2 separate regions of the Homo sapiens genome follow, and region 2 is linked to region 1. A link means that fine-mapping ties the variant in region 1 to the expression of a gene that starts in the linked region. Tissue or cell type: fibroblasts. Region 1 holds a variant in brackets; the other region holds the start of a gene. All regions are shown on one strand. Distances are from middle to middle.

Evidence for each region. PIP is the estimated chance that this variant, and not a neighbour inherited with it, causes the effect.
Region 2: HAS1 starts here. The variant in region 1 is fine-mapped to the expression of HAS1 in fibroblasts (GTEx, PIP above 0.99).

The regions. Positions count from the first base shown.
Region 1 is chr19:51,740,787-51,748,893 of GRCh38, reverse strand. It overlaps FPR1 (formyl peptide receptor 1), which reads left to right. Exons shown (of 2, transcript NM_002029.4): 2 at 1,889-3,121. The coding sequence starts at 1,900. The coding sequence ends at 2,952. Among named protein-coding and RNA genes, the nearest start is that of FPR1, 7.0 kb to the left of the region's middle. The variant G/A (reference allele first, on the strand shown) is at 3,506.
Region 2 is chr19:51,719,686-51,727,789 of GRCh38, reverse strand. HAS1 (hyaluronan synthase 1) reads left to right here and starts at 3,799. Exons shown (of 5, transcript NM_001297436.2): 1 at 3,799-3,865; 2 at 7,895-8,104. The coding sequence starts at 3,857.

The DNA.
Region 1 (8,107 bases):
TGAGAGAAAGTCTTAGTCCACGTTTGTGTGACACTAGGTCACTGAAGCTGTCGCCCACTGATTTTCTGATATCTTATGCTCTTATTTTTCCTTTATTAAATTGATGGTAAAATACAAAAAGTTAACCATTTTAGGCTGGGCACAGTGGCTCACGCCTATAATCTCAGCACTTTGGGACGCCGAGGCGGGCAGATCACCTGAGGTCAAGGAGTTTGAGACCAGGCTGGCCAACATGGTGAAACCCCATCTCTACAAAAATATAAAAATTAGCTGGGCATGGTGGCAAGTGCCTGTAATTCCAGCTACTCAGGAGGCTGAGGCAGGAGAATCACTTAAACGCGGGAGGCGGAGGTTGCAGTGAGCCAAGATCGCACCACTGCACTCCAGCCTGGGTGACAGAACGAGACTGCGTCTCAAACAACAATAAAAAAGTTACCCATTTAAATGTACAATTCAATGGCATTAAGTACATCTACAGTGTGTTGCAACCATAACCATTATCTAGTTCCAGAACTTTTTAATCACACCAAGCAAAAACTGCATATTCATTAAGCAACAATTCCCCACTTCCTAGTTTCCCCAGTCCCTGGCAATCACTAATCTGCATTCGGTCTCTGTGAGTTTGGCTACTCTGGATATTTCATACAAGTGGAATCATACAAAATGTGACTTGTGGTGTCTTCCTTCCTTCTCTCCTTCCTTCCTCCTTCTTTCCTTCCTTTCTTTTTTCTTTCATTTTAGAGACAGGGTCTTGCTTTGTTGCCCAGGCTGGAGTGCAGTGGCTCAATCATAGTACACTATTAACCTTGAATTCCTGGGCTCAAGTGAGCCTCCCATCTCACCCTTCTGAGTAGCTAGGACTACAGGTGTGTGCCACCACATCCAGCTAATTTAATTTAATTTTGTTGTTGTTGTTGTTAGAGATGAGGATCTTGCTATGTGGCTCAGGCTGATCATGAACTCCTGAGCTCAAGCAACCCTCCTACCTCGGCTTCCCAAAGCTCTGAGATGACAGGCGTGAACCACCACATCCAGCCCTCTTTTGTTTAGAGTAATGTTTTCAAGGTTCAGCCACGTTGTAGCATATATCAGTGCTTCATTGTTTTTTATGGCAGAATAATATTCCATTGGGTGGATAAACCACATTTTGTTTATCCATTCATCTGTTGATGGACATCTGGGTTGTTTCTACCTTTTGGCTATAGGGAGGAGTGTCTCTATGAACATTTTTGTTTGAATACATGTTTTCTCTATACATCTTTGGCCCCATATTCTCCTCTTGGAGGTCAAGGACCCTATCTTCCTTAGCCATTTAATCTCCCTGGTAGGGGCTTGCATGTTAGCAATTATGAGGATGTGTCATAAGATGCAATCTTGGCCACACGTGGTAGCTCACGTCTGTAATCCCAGCACTTTGGGAGGCTGAGGTGGGTGGATCACCTGGGGTCAGCAGTTCAAGACCAGCCTGGCCAACATGGCAAAACCCCACCTCTACTAAATATACGAAAATTAGCCAGGAGTGGGGTGGTGCATACCTGTAGTCTCAGCTACTCAGGACGCTGAGGCAGGGGAATTGCTTGAACCCGGGAGGTGGAGGTTGCAGTGAGAGATCACGCCACTGCACTCCAGCCTGGGTGACAGAGCAATATTCCATCTCAAAAAAAAAAAAAAAGATGTAATCTTGCCCAACAGGTACAATAAAAGATTGCCAATGTATAGATGTGGGCATGTGTAAGGGACAGTGGTGAGGATGTTCCGGCTGTTGTGGGAGCTCTAGGGGAAGGTGAGAAAGCTAGGAGTGGGAAAACTGGCAGGGGCAGAAATGAGGGGGTGGGGAAATGGTACGGAGGTTCATAACTGAGGAATGACCACGACTGCACTATTTCAGGAGCAGACAAGATGGAGACAAATTCCTCTCTCCCCACGAACATCTCTGGAGGGACACCTGCTGTATCTGCTGGCTATCTCTTCCTGGATATCATCACTTATCTGGTATTTGCAGTCACCTTTGTCCTCGGGGTCCTGGGCAACGGGCTTGTGATCTGGGTGGCTGGATTCCGGATGACACACACAGTCACCACCATCAGTTACCTGAACCTGGCCGTGGCTGACTTCTGTTTCACCTCCACTTTGCCATTCTTCATGGTCAGGAAGGCCATGGGAGGACATTGGCCTTTCGGCTGGTTCCTGTGCAAATTCGTCTTTACCATAGTGGACATCAACTTGTTCGGAAGTGTCTTCCTGATCGCCCTCATTGCTCTGGACCGCTGTGTTTGCGTCCTGCATCCAGTCTGGACCCAGAACCACCGCACCGTGAGCCTGGCCAAGAAGGTGATCATTGGGCCCTGGGTGATGGCTCTGCTCCTCACATTGCCAGTTATCATTCGTGTGACTACAGTACCTGGTAAAACGGGGACAGTAGCCTGCACTTTTAACTTTTCGCCCTGGACCAACGACCCTAAAGAGAGGATAAATGTGGCCGTTGCCATGTTGACGGTGAGAGGCATCATCCGGTTCATCATTGGCTTCAGCGCACCCATGTCCATCGTTGCTGTCAGTTATGGGCTTATTGCCACCAAGATCCACAAGCAAGGCTTGATTAAGTCCAGTCGTCCCTTACGGGTCCTCTCCTTTGTCGCAGCAGCCTTTTTTCTCTGCTGGTCCCCATATCAGGTGGTGGCCCTTATAGCCACAGTCAGAATCCGTGAGTTATTGCAAGGCATGTACAAAGAAATTGGTATTGCAGTGGATGTGACAAGTGCCCTGGCCTTCTTCAACAGCTGCCTCAACCCCATGCTCTATGTCTTCATGGGCCAGGACTTCCGGGAGAGGCTGATCCACGCCCTTCCCGCCAGTCTGGAGAGGGCCCTGACCGAGGACTCAACCCAAACCAGTGACACAGCTACCAATTCTACTTTACCTTCTGCAGAGGTGGAGTTACAGGCAAAGTGAGGAGGGAGCTGGGGGACACTTTCGAGCTCCCAGCTCCAGCTTCGTCTCACCTTGAGTTAGGCTGAGCCACAGGCATTTCCTGCTTATTTTAGGATTACCCACTCATCAGAAAAAAAAAAAAAAGCCTTTGTGTCCCCTGATTTGGGGAGAATAAACAGATATGAGTTTATTATTGACTTCTTTTTTGATTTTGGACCTCAGCCTTGGGTGGTCAGGGTGGGAAATGATAGGAAGAAGCTGTCATCTGCATCCTAGTTTGCCTGAAATGAACCCAAATAATACCCATTATTATTAGTCCTGAATTATGAGTAGTGAATGATACCCATCATTCTGGCATCATGATGAGTAGTGTCCACTTCCATTCTGAAAAGTGCCCTGCTGTGAAAAATAAATTATATAGTCATCCTAGGTAAATGAAGGAGGAGGGAGAAGTGTGAAAGAGTATGGCTTAAATCAGACAAGATATACAAGAAGATACTTTATATAGGGCAGGAGCGGTGGCTCATGCCTGTAATCCCAGCACTTTGGGAGGCCGAGGCAGGCGGATCACCAG[G/A]GGTCAGGAATTCGAGAACAGCCTGGCCAACATGGTGAAACCCTGTCTCTACTAAAAATACAAAAATTAGCTGGGCGTAGTGGCAGGCTCCCGTAATCCCAGCTACTCAGGAGACCGAGGCAGGAGAATCGCTTGAACCTGGAAGGCGGAGGTTGTAGTGAGCCAAGAAAACGCCACTACACTCCAGCCTGGGTGACAGAGAGAGACTCCGGCTCAGAAAAAAAAAAAAAGAAGATACTTTATATAAAGTCCTCAGCCTTTATCGGTCAACAACTCAGTAAAAATATAAAGTTATCGAGATGTCAGCTGAAGACCCCTCATTTCCTTGAGATCTACCTGATGCCTAATCTTTTATATAATAAATTTTGGGAAACAGATTATCCTCTCCACAAGGGAGGGCCCCCAGGGCCCGTGTTTTTACCTGTGGCTCTAAGTCTTGCTTCAACTGAGTTAGTCCAGTTCACACAATGTCTGGTGGTTGCTGCCCTGATGAAATTAACCCAGAGAGGAACTCAGACATTTCCTTCAATTTACTGAAAAGCTACCTGCACAAGGTATTTAAATATGAAACACACTTTACAGAAAGAAGCTTGGAAATGTTAGAGTATGCAACTGGCCAGCAACGGACAAACATGAAAGCTTCCAGTTGAACTTAAGACATCCTTTTAAAAGTCCACCCTCCCTCTTATCTCCTCACCTCCAGATTCCTGCTTTTTTTTTTTTTTTTTTTTTTTTTTTTACAACGCAGAGAAATTTAGCCATCCTACCCTTGACTCTGACTCTTTATCCCTCAGGTCTCCTTTCCTAACTCAAGTCATTTATCAATAACAGTATCCTCCTTAAGAAGATTTCTGGTGCCAGCTCTTTTTTTTTTTTTTTTTTTTGAGACAGAGTCTTACTCTGTCGCCCAGTCTGGAGTGCAGTGGTGCGATCTCAGCTCACTGCAACCTCTGCCTCCCGGGTTCAAGCGATTCTCCTGCCTCAGCCTCCAGGTTAGCTGGGACTACAGGCGCCCGCCACTGCGCCCGGCTAAATTTTTTTGTATTTTTAGTAGAGGTGGGGTTTTGCCATATTGGCCAGGCTGGTTTTGAACTCCTGATCTTGTGATCCACCCGCCTCAGCCTTCCAAAGTGCTGGGATTACAGGTGTGAGCCACCACACCCCATCAAGAAGATTTCTGTTGTCGGCTCTTGAATAATCATTTAATTACCATTACAGACATCATCATTTTATTGTATTTTATTTTATTTATTTATTTATTTTTGAGACAGAGTTTCACTCTTGTTGCCCAGGCTAGAGTGCAATGGCACAATCTCGGCTCACTGCAACCTCCACTTACTGGGTTCAAGCGATTCTCCTGCCTCAGCCTCCAGAGTAGCTGGGATTACAGGCATGCATCACACCTGGCTCACTTTGTATTTTTTAGTAGAGATGGAGTTTCTCCATGTTGGTCAGGCTGGTCTCGAACTCCTTACCTCAGGAGATCTGCCCGCCTCAGCCTCCCAGAGTGCTGGGATTACAGGAGTGAGCCACTGCGCCTGGCCATCATTTTATTATAAACAAGAAACAGAAGAGAAATGGAGAGAGAATGAATAGAAAGAAGAGAGATGAAGGAGAAGCTTGGAGCATCCAGAATTAACTTACAGCAGAACCTGTCTTTGGGTGAGGGGCTGGGTGATGAGGGCTAATTTCATCTCAGTGCAAGGGGAGATTCCTGAGTTTTGATGACATGATGTGGTCCTTGGGAATCTAGCTCTTCTCTAGACTCCCATGATGATTTTTTCTGTACACCCCCCACGAAGCTCTGCAAGCCTTACTCATCAGCATCCAATGCATTTATTTAACCTATGCCACTGACCCCAGAGCTTCTGGAGGGCATCGTGTCATCCTTGCCTTTTCCCTGCATACAAAAGGCTTCAATGAATGATGGTTTAACTAAACCTTTTGCTTCTGTACCTCTTTTATAATTACGCAGGATACTTGTAAATCCTGGAACCCCTTTGGTCACCAACTCCATTAAGTCAGAGAGTTCTTCCTATGCTGACACATGGAGAAATTGAGGCCCAGAAGGAGAGTGTAGTAAAATAGGACCCTGCTACAAAGTTAGAGGGCAGACCCTTCATACAAGACCACCCTCGCTTCTGCCAATTTGCAGAATCTCCAGAACACCCTCCGGCTGGATCATTTGCTAGAAAGAGTCACAGAGAGAGAACTGAGCAGAGGATTTGAACAGAGAAGAAGTGAGAGATGATGAAGCCCCAGATTGCAAGGGGTAGGGAGAAGCTACCAGATAATGTTCCAGTTCCTCTAAGGTCTAGACGCACTGTCTGCAGTTGGCTTCCTTTAAATTCCCTTGTGTTCTTCCAGCAGGTTTAACTTAAGCCAGCTTGACCGAGTTTCTGCAACTCACAACTCAACCATCCGTTCCTAAGCTACCTATAATAATTGTCAGAATGAATCAACCACAGGGTGGTTCCCGTGACTGAGGCTGAGCAAGAGAATGGGGAGAGACTTGGCTTGCGGGGGGTGGGTATTACCCTTCCGGCCACTTACTGGGGGAGCTCCTGGTCTTGCATGAACCAGCAAACAGAGAAGAGGCAATGGCCTATGATGTGGTCAAAGAACGAGAATAAATGATAGCCCCTGTCGGCTCCCAAATCCTAACAATATCCAGCTCACCCTGAATGGTGCCTCTATGGGGAAAAAATCCCTCTTGTAGAATTTAGACGTTAAGAATACAGACCCTCCTAACAAGTTGACTGGATTGGAATCTGGACCTCATCTCTTATAAGCTCTGTGATCTGGGGAAAATCAATTACTTTTTCTCTCTCTTTTTTTTTTTTTTTTTTTTTTTTTGAGATAGAGTTTCACTCTTGTTGCCCAGGCTGGAGTGCAATGGCATAATCTTGGCTCACTGTAACCTCCACCTCCCAGGTTCAAATGATTCTCCTGCCTCAGCCTCCCGAGTAGCTGGGATTACAGGTGCGCATCAACACGCCCGGCTAATTTTTGTATTTTTAATAGAGACAGGGTTTCTCCATGTTGATCAGGCTGGTCTCGAACTCCTGACCTCTGGTGATCTGCCTGCCTTGGCCTCCCAAAGTGCTGGGATTATAGGCGTGAGCCACTGTGCCTGGCCTCAATTACTTTTTCTGTATCAGTAATGGTCCCCTCAAGAAAAAGGCAGTACACTAAAATGATTTCGTTGAAGAGAGCTGGAGACCCAGGAATGCTGGTGGTGCAGTCCCAGTCCTAGTCTGAAGGGCTGAGAAGGAGAGACAATGATGTAGTTCCAGTCCAAAGGCTGGCAGGCTTGAGACCCAGAAAGAGCTAATGTTTTTATTTTATGTCCAAAAGCAAGAAAAAAACTCATGTCTCAGCTTAAAGGTTGACAGGAAAGGAGTTCCTTTTATTCGTAGAAGGGCCAGCCTTTTTGTTTTATTCAGGCCTTCAAAAGATTGGACGTGGCCCGCCCACAATAGAGAGGGTAAGCTGTGTTACTAAGTCTACCTTTTAAATGTTAATCTTGGGTCTGGCGTGGTGGCTCACACCTGTAACCCCAGCACTTTGGGAGGCTGAGGTGAGCAGATAACCTGAGGTCAGGAGTTCGAGAATAGCCTGGCGAACATGGCAAAACTCTGTCTCTACTGGAAATACAAAAAGTAGCCGGGTGTGGTGGTAGGCACCTGTAGTCCCAGCTACTTGGGAGGCTGAGGCAGGAGAATCACTTGAACCAGGGAGGTGGAGGTTGCAGTGAGCTGAGATTGGGCGACACAGAGACTTTGTCTCAAAAATAATAATAATAATAAAATTAAATAAATAAATAAATGTTAATCTTATTAAGTTTAGCCCAAAGCTGTATTCTCACTTTTTTTTTTTTTTTTTTGAGACAAGGTCTTGCTCTGTCACCTAGGCTGGAGTGCAGTGGTATGATCATAGCTCACTGCAGCTTCAAACTCCCACCTCAGCCTCCCAGGTAGTTAGGACTACAGGTGCATGCCACCATGCCCAACTAATTTATTTATTTATTTATTTATTTATTTATTTGCAGAGATGGGATCTCACGATGTTGCCCAGCCTGGGTGACAGAGTGAGACCCTGCCTCAAAACAAACAAACAAAAACAAAAAACAAAAAACAAAATTATTGCAATGGTTTGGATACAGAAGAAAAGAGAGTTCATCTGTCCTTTATTAAACCAGACATTTAAAAAATCTGCAAACAGGCTGGGCATGGTGGCTCATGCTTGTAATCCCAGCACTTTGGGAGGCTGAGGCAGGTAGGTTACCTGAGGTCAGGAGTTTAAGACCAGCCCGGCCAACATGGTGAAACCCCATCTCTACTAAAAATACAAAAATTAGCTGGGCGTGGTGACGCATGCCTGTAATCCCAGCTACTCAGGAGGCTGAGGCAGGAGAATCACTTAAACTTGGGAGGCAGAGGTTGCAGTGAGCCAAGATTGCACCATTGCATTCCAGCCTGGGTGACAGAGCGAGACTACAGCTCAAAAAAATAAAAACAAAAAATAAAATAAAAACTAGTACTGGATTTTGCAAGAAATAGCAAGTCACCCTGAAGTTATAATTGTATGGCATTTACAATA
Region 2 (8,104 bases), 21 kb after region 1:
GCATCAATCCGCCCTTACTTTTTTGACTGGCCACACCATTTCTTGCCTTGGATGCCCCTTTCTTGCCCCACCGTCCACCACCACCCTGACCACGGCTAACGCCTCATCAGCCAGCATCACCTCCTCCAGGAAGCCCTCCCTGACTCTTGGGCTGGGTTGGTGCATCCTTGTACTGTTTTGTGGCCCTCTGTTTACACAGCTGTCTTCTCCACCAGATTGGCATCTCCCCAAGGGCAGGGCCCAGGGCTGAGTCATCTCTGTGTGCCCGGCATCGCCCAGCCCAGCCCTGTCCACCAGGGCTCAGGAGATGTCCCCACAATGAATGAATGTTCTCTCCTCTGCCTTTGCTCCATTTTTGCCTTACCTCTCCCACCCTGTGCTCCTTCTGTCCAGGTATTCTGTAAGCTGTACCCTGAGGTTTCCTGATGATGGCTGAAATGCTGGGAAGGCCACTGTGGACCCAGGGCAGGAACTGGAGAGCAGCCACCAGAGGAATGGGGGTTTCTAGGAGCCATGGGTGTTAGCGAGGGGTGCGGTGTCCCTACCTGTCCCTCCAACAACAGCCCCGGCCTGCTGTGGGAGTGTTCAGCTTCACTGCTCCCTGTCTTTCAGCACTTGTCTGGGCTGCTTCCAGCCTTGGTCATCTCTTCCTGCAAGAAATTCTGGGGGCTGGACATGTAGGTCTAAGGGAGAAGGAAGCTGGGAGTTGAGACTCCTGGGTCTGAGGGAGGAGGGGATGGGGGCCTGGGCCTGGGCTCCAGGGTCTGAGGGAGGAGGGGATGGGGGCCTGGACTCCTGGGTCTGAGGGAGGAGGAGATGGAGTCTGGACTCCTGGGTCTGAGGGAGGAGGGGATGGGGCCTGGACTCCTGGGTCTGAGGGAGGAGGGGATGGGGCCTGGACTCCTGGGTCTGAGGGAGGAGGGGATGGGGCCTGGACTCCTGGGTCTGAGGGAGGCGGGGCTGGCAGCCTGGACTCCTGGGTCTGAGGGAGGGGTGCTGGGGACCTGGACTTCTGGGTCTGAGGGAGGTGGGGCTGGGGGCCTGGACTCCTGGGTCTCAGGGAGGAGGGACTGGGGGTCTGGACCCTGGGTCTGAGGGATGAGGAACTCTGAACCTGTACTCCTGGGTCTGAAGGAGGAGGGGCTGGGTGTCTGGGATCCTGGGTCTGAGGGAGGAGGGACATGGGAACCTGGACTCCTGGGCCTGAGAGAGGAAGGGCTGGGGTCTGGACTCTCGGGTCTGAAGGAGGAGGGTGCTGGGAACCTGGACTCCTGGGTCTTAGAGGAGGGAACTGTTGAGGATTAAAGCCCTGGTTATCCTTCCTCAACCGCACTCTGGTTTTAGAAACATCTGGTTTTATACAGCTGCTCCACCCGAGCAGGGCGGGGTGGGGGCTGGGCAGCCAAATGCCCCACTTCTGGGGAGGAGCCTGCGCTGCCCCCTCCCACTGGGCGGAGGACTCACCCTCCCCTTCTGCTCTGGGCTGGCCTCAGATCATCTGAGGACCCATCATCCTGACACAGCCAGACACCAGGCAGCCCGGCTCCCGGCAACAGCGTCAGACACAGCCCGGCCCGCCCTGGTGGGTGGGAAGGGCGTTCGAGCTCCTTGGGAATGCACCTTCTCCCTGACAGGCCCAGGCAGAGGCTTGGCCTGGCGCAGCCTCCTCGGGGAAAACCCCAGGGTGTGAGGACTTGGTGTGAGGACTTGGTGTCTGGCAGGGGAGAGCTCCGGGACAGGCTGGAAGAGATGGAACTGCAGGGAGAGACGAAGATGTAGAAACAGAGAAATGGAGAGAAACTGAATGAGAGAGACAGAGACAGAGAAACACATACAGAGATAGAGCCTTACAAAGAGATAGGTGCGGTGGCTCACGCCTGTAATCCCAACACTTTGGAAGGCCAAGGCAGATGGATCACTTGAGGTCAGGAGTTGGAGACCAGCCTGGCCTACATAGTGAAACCCCATCTCTACTAAAAATACAAAAAATTAGCCAGGTGTGGTGGTGGGCGCTTGTAGTTCCAGCTACTCGGGAGGCTAAGGCAGGAGAATCGCTTGAACCCGGGAGGCGGAGGTTGCAGTGAGCCGAGCTCACGCCACTGCACTCCAGCCTAGGTGAGAGAGTGAGACTCCGTCTCAAAAAAAAAAAAAAAAAAAGAGAGAGATGGGGATGCAGAGAGACGGAAGGAGGATAGAGACAGAGCTAGAGAGGGAGGGAGATAGAGGGAAAAAGAGACAGAGAGAAAGAGACACACACACATGGACACACAGTGAGAAAGTCAGGGAGAGGCACTCAGAAAGAAAGAGAGCCACACAAGAAGAAAGTCAGGGAGACTTCAGAAATGCAAAGGGACAGACACTCCCAGGTAAAAGCAGAGAGAGAATGGCTGTGAGGGGGGATGAGGAGGAGAAACAGACAGGAATACACAGAGGCAGAGACCCAAATAGAGGGACCGAGAAACAGAGATGGGGTGACAGATACAAAATGACAGAGATTTGGGGAGGGACAGACGAGGAGAGAGAAGCACGGGGGAATTTCTCTCTGCTGCTCCATGTCTTTCAGCCTGTCCTGGAGCTGGCCCGTGCCAGACACCAAAGGTCGTTGGAGTCACAGGCAGGGAGAAAAGAACGAGGCAGCTACCGAGGCAGCTACCAAGGCCGAAAGTGAGACATCAATAGTTCACAGTAAGAGGAGCAGAGAGAAGAACAGAATTAGATACAGATAGTTTTTTTAAAAAATTCATGGAAAGAAGGGCATGTAAACAGACATTTATCACAGATCTGGTCCTGAGGGGCTGGGGTTCGGGCACCCCAGGTCCCGCATCTCTTTTCACCCTTCCTCTGACTCAGTTTCCCTGATGGGTGACAGCACTGACAGACCCCGGCTGGCTCCCCAGGGTCAGCTGACCGACAACTCTCTGTGTTCATCCCTGAGTCCCTGGGGATACAAATCCCAGCGCCCCAGCTCTCCACCCCAGACCCTGGTGCACACACGCAGACCCACGTCAGTTAGGCGCTGAATGGACAGATGTTCACTCACAGCTCCGGTTCCAGGCAGCCGTGCCTCGGGCCAGCGTACACACAGGCACACCCACAGCACGCACGTGTGTGAGTTTCGTTCCATCTGCCAGTTGCTGAGACATGTCCCTGGGGGGCCCAACCCAGAGATGGATTCTGGGGACAGGAGAGGCGGCTGTGGGGAGAAGCAGGGCGGGGGTGACTGGGGAAGGTGAGAAGGGGGAGGTGGGGAGAGCTTTAAAGCAAGAAGAGAAAGAAATGAGGGTGAGAGGAGGCAAGAGAAGTGGAGAGGAAGAAAGGGATGGAGAGAAAGACAGAAACTTGGAGAAATGTGGTAATGGGGAGAGAGATGAGGGTACCAACAAAGAGATGAGGAGAAATAGTGGGTTAGGGAGAAAGAAAGGGATGGAGGGAAATACAGGGATAGGGGATGGGGGGATGAGGGGAACCCCCAAAATGCAAGTGAGGTGGAAGAGAAAAATCAGGGGAGACAAGGGACGAGAGGGGGGAGGAAGAGAGAAGAAGACATAGAGGAGGGAGGGAGAGGAGGGGGAGTGATGGCAGAGAGGACTAGAGGAGGGGCGCGGGTAGACATGGGGGCCTGGGAAGGGAGGCCCGTCTGGCTGAGGGGGGTGGGAGTAATAGCGGGAAGCGGGTGGAGCTGCCCGGCTGGGCCGTGACCTCAGAGCCCCTGGCCCAGCTTAGCCTGACTGACGTCAGCGCTCGCTCCCGCCCCCGCCTGCGCTGGTCTTCAAATGACCCCCCTCCAGCTCTCTGGCCACAGAGAGGCTGGGAGAGCAAGCCGGAGAGAAGAGAGAGCCCGGCCAGACCCACTGCGATGAGACAGGTGTGTGTGTGTGTGTGTGTGTGTGTGTGTGTGTGTGTGTATACAGCCATGTGGGGAAAACTACTGCCATATGTGTGACCACGTGTGTTGGGGAACTGTGTGTGCATGATTTCATGTGTGTATCCATGTGCCTGACAGTGACCATATGTGTGTAGGGGACAGTGAGCATGTGAGGCTGAGTGTGCAGGTCTGTGTATACATTGCCCTGTGTGAGCGGCCATCCCAAGTACATGTAGGTGAGACGTGCCATGTCCGTATTTCTGTATCTGCGTATCTTGCTACAAACTTGTGTATGTCTATGTTCCCTGGGAGGCAGAGAGAAAGAGGGAGTGCGACAGTGAGCGAATGAAAGAGACTGAGTGAGAAAGAGAGTTGGATTTGCCTGTGGCACATGGGAATGGATTTCTGTTTCATGCGTTCAATAGCTATTAAGTTGAACCAAATGAAATCGCCGATACTGAGCCACTCTAAACTTGGAAGAATAGCAATTTCATCTGGTTCAGTATCAGCTTGACAGTCACCTACTATTTCTCTTGAAATCTTCCCTGTGCATCCCATTGCCCCAGACTCTCAGTTGGGGCTCTGTGTGTTTGTGGCCACGTGGACATCCTTTGCTGGTGTTGCTTTTTCCTGCTGAGGGGTGTGTGTCTGCAGGTTCACCTGTGTGGCCGTCGGTGGGGGTCACGGGATCGCTGTGTTTGGCCTGAGTGGGTGTCTCGGGTCATCCTGTAGAACACGAGTAATTTCATTCTGTGTGTCACTCATCATGTGTGAGTTCACGTGTGGGGGAGTGTGTCTACACGTGTGTTCATCTGTGTTTCTGGAATCAACTCTCTGGATCCCCAGCATGAATTGAGCCATCCCTAGGAACTCAGGCAAGGCCAGGTTTGAAGCAAAGGAAGAGAGAAGGGGGATTCGAGAAGAAAGAATAATGTTTAATGTTGAGAGTTTAAAAGCTGTACCTCAGTTTTGTCCTCTAGAAATGTAACGAAAACCACAATATCTAATTTAAAATTTTCTTGTGGCCACATTTGAAAAAGTAAAAACAAACAGGTGAAATTAATTTTAATAATATATTTTTATTTAACCCAGTGTGTCAGGGGCCAGCACATTTTTTTAAATAAAGGGCCCAATATTAAATATTTGAGGCTTTTGGGGGCCATCTGGTCTCTTTTGAAAGTACTCAACTTCGATGTGGTAAATGTAGAATCAGCCACAGATGATGTATAAACAAATGAATGTGGTTGTATGCAAATAAAACTTCCTTTAAGGACACTGAAATTTGAATTTCATATTTTTCATGCTCCACAAACTATTATTCTTCTTTTGGCTTTCAAAAACCATCTAAAAACACACACACAAATTCTTAGCCTGCAGGCTGCAGCAGGTCTTAGCATGCCGACCCCTGCTACATATAAGATATGATCATTTCAATATGTAATCAATACATAAATGTTAATGAGCTATTTTACTTTCTTTTCCCCAGACTTGGCCTTCAAAATCCAGTGTGTTCATAGCACTTCTCACTTAGATGCTACCTTTTCACTGGAAATACCTAATCTGTGTTTAGATTTTATAAGATTTACAATTATAAAAGGGGCATCGTAGATGCAACTTGTTCCAGACATATTTAAAATCTTTCCAATAACCGAATCAAGTAAGAGTTTTTAAATTTAAATGAATTAAAATTAAATAAAATTTAAAACTCAGTTCCTCGGTGATACTGGCTGCATTTCAAGTACTCGGTAGACACATGTGGCTGCTGACACCTGTGTTGGACACAAAGATCTACATCTTAACGACGCATTTAAATAACCCACAGTAAGCCTTGAGGCAGGAACTGGTGGCATAGGAGGCAGTTTAGCGTAGAGGGGACGCCAGAGCCAGACTGCCTGAGTTTTACTTCTGACTCTGCTTATTACCTGAGTGACCTTGGGTAAAAGTATTTGCCTCTCAGTGTCTCAGTTTCCTCATCTGTAACAGAAGACAGTGAAGGTACCTGCCTTATAAGATTGTTGTAGAGACCGGGTGCAGTAGCTCACGCCTATAATCCCAGCACTTTAGGGGGCCAAGGCAGGAGGATCGCTAGAGCCTGGGAGTTCGAGACCAACTTGAGAAACACAGCAAGACCCTGTCTCTATTATTATTATTATTATTTCGAGATGGAGTCTCGCACTGTCACCCAGGCTGAAGTGTAGTGGTGCCATCTTGGCTCACTGCAACCTCCACCTCAGGGGTTCAAGCAGTTCTCCTGCCTTAGCCTTCTGAGGAGCTGAGACTACAGTCGTGCGCCACCAAGCCTGGCTAATTTTTGTATTTTGCTTTCGCCATGTTAGCCAGGCTAATCTCGAACTCCTGACCTCAGGTGATCCACCCGCCTCCGCCTCCCAAAGTGCTGGGATTACAGGCGTGAGCCACAGTTTCTGGCTCCCTGTCTCAATTTAAAAAAAAATTTATATATATATATTAAGGTTGTTGTACAGTAGTGTCTGGCACACAGAAAGTACTTTTTCCTCTGATTCTGGGCTCTTCCAGCAACATTTACTGGGGCACCTGGCTCTGCTGGGGAGTTGGGCAGTGGAAAAGGAGAACCAGGCTATGCCTCTGGAAAGTCAGAGAGAAGAGTCCTCTACCATGGGCTGCTGATCTTGTGCAAGCCACTCCTTCTGGCCAATCAGTCCTCAGTTTGGCCACCTGTATGGTGGCAGAGCACTATCTGTCCCCCAGGGCTCTCCCGAGGGCTAGAGGTTTAGAGATTCAGTTCCTAGGGTTCAAATCCAGGTTCCTCTGCTTTCCAGGGACAACCTTGGGCAAATTGCTGAACCTCTGTGTGACTCAGTTGCCTCATCTGTACAACGGGGATAATAATAACAGTACCTACCTTACAGCGCTGTTGTAAAGATTAAAATAAATTCATTCATCTTAAAGGCTTAGAGCAGGGACTGGTACACAGCATTTTGGTTTTTTAGTATGTGTTATTATTATTACTGTCTCAACCCTAAGAAACCTTTGATTGGGAGATAAATCCTCATTGTATGTGCCACTAAGAAAGAGGAGGGAAACGCCCTAGTAATTAAATTGTGACACTCCATCGCATGCAATCATCCTCACGGATTTAAGAGATTTCAAAACGTGGAAAAAAGTTGTATTGGAAGAAACAAAATCAGGCTGGGCTTGGTGGCTCATGCCTGTATTCATAGCACTTTGGGAGACTGGAGCCTAGGAGACATAGTGAGACCCCTCCTCTAATTGTTTTTTTTTTAATTAGCAAGGCATAGTGACTCCAGCCTTGTGGTCCTAGCTTCTTGGGAGACTGAGGTGAGAGAATCGCCAGAGCCTAGGAGTTAGAAGCTGCAGTGAGCTATGATGGTGCCACTGCACCCCAGCCTGGGCGACAGAGCAAGACCCTGTCTATAAAAATAAATAATAATGAAAAGAAGGAATCTAATCAGCATGAAGCCTAGATAGCTATTTGCTCCAATTATTTTCGTTAATGAAAATAATTTTGGGGCCCGGCGAGGTAGCTCATGCCTGTAATCCCAGCACTTAGGAAGGCCGGGGCAGGCAAGTCACTTGAGCCCAGGGGTTCCAGACCAGCCTAGGTAATGTAGGGAGACCCCCGGCTCTACCAAAAATTTAAAAATTAGCCAGGAGTTGTGGCACACTCTTTGTAGTCCCAGCTACTCGGGAGGCTGAGGTGGGAGGCTGAGCCTGAGCTCGGGAAGCTGAGGCTGCAGTGAGCCTAGATGGCGACACTAGGCTGGAGTGAGACCCTGTCTCAAAAGAAAAAAAAAACAAAAAACGAAAGGAGAGAGAAAGGGAGAGCGAGAGCGAGAGAGAGAGAGAGACAGCGAGACAGACACAGAGAGAGAGAAAGATAAAGAGAAGGAAGGACGGAGGGAGGGAGAGAGAGAGGGAGGGGAGGGAAAGGGAAGGAGGGAAGGAAGGAAAGGATTTTTAATCTTCTCTCGGAGGAGGCTCATGCGCCCGGGACTCATGCCCCTTCCTTTCCCCTCTCGCTCCCAGCAGGACGCGCCCAAGCCCACTCCTGCAGCCTGCCGCTGCTCCGGCCTGGCCCGGAGGGTGCTGACCATCGCCTTCGCCCTGCTCATCCTGGGCCTCATGACCTGGGCCTACGCCGCCGGGGTGCCGCTGGCCTCCGATCGCTACGGCCTCCTGGCCTTCGGCCTCTACGGGGCCTTCCTTTCAGCGCACCTGGTGGCGCAGAGCCTCTTCGCG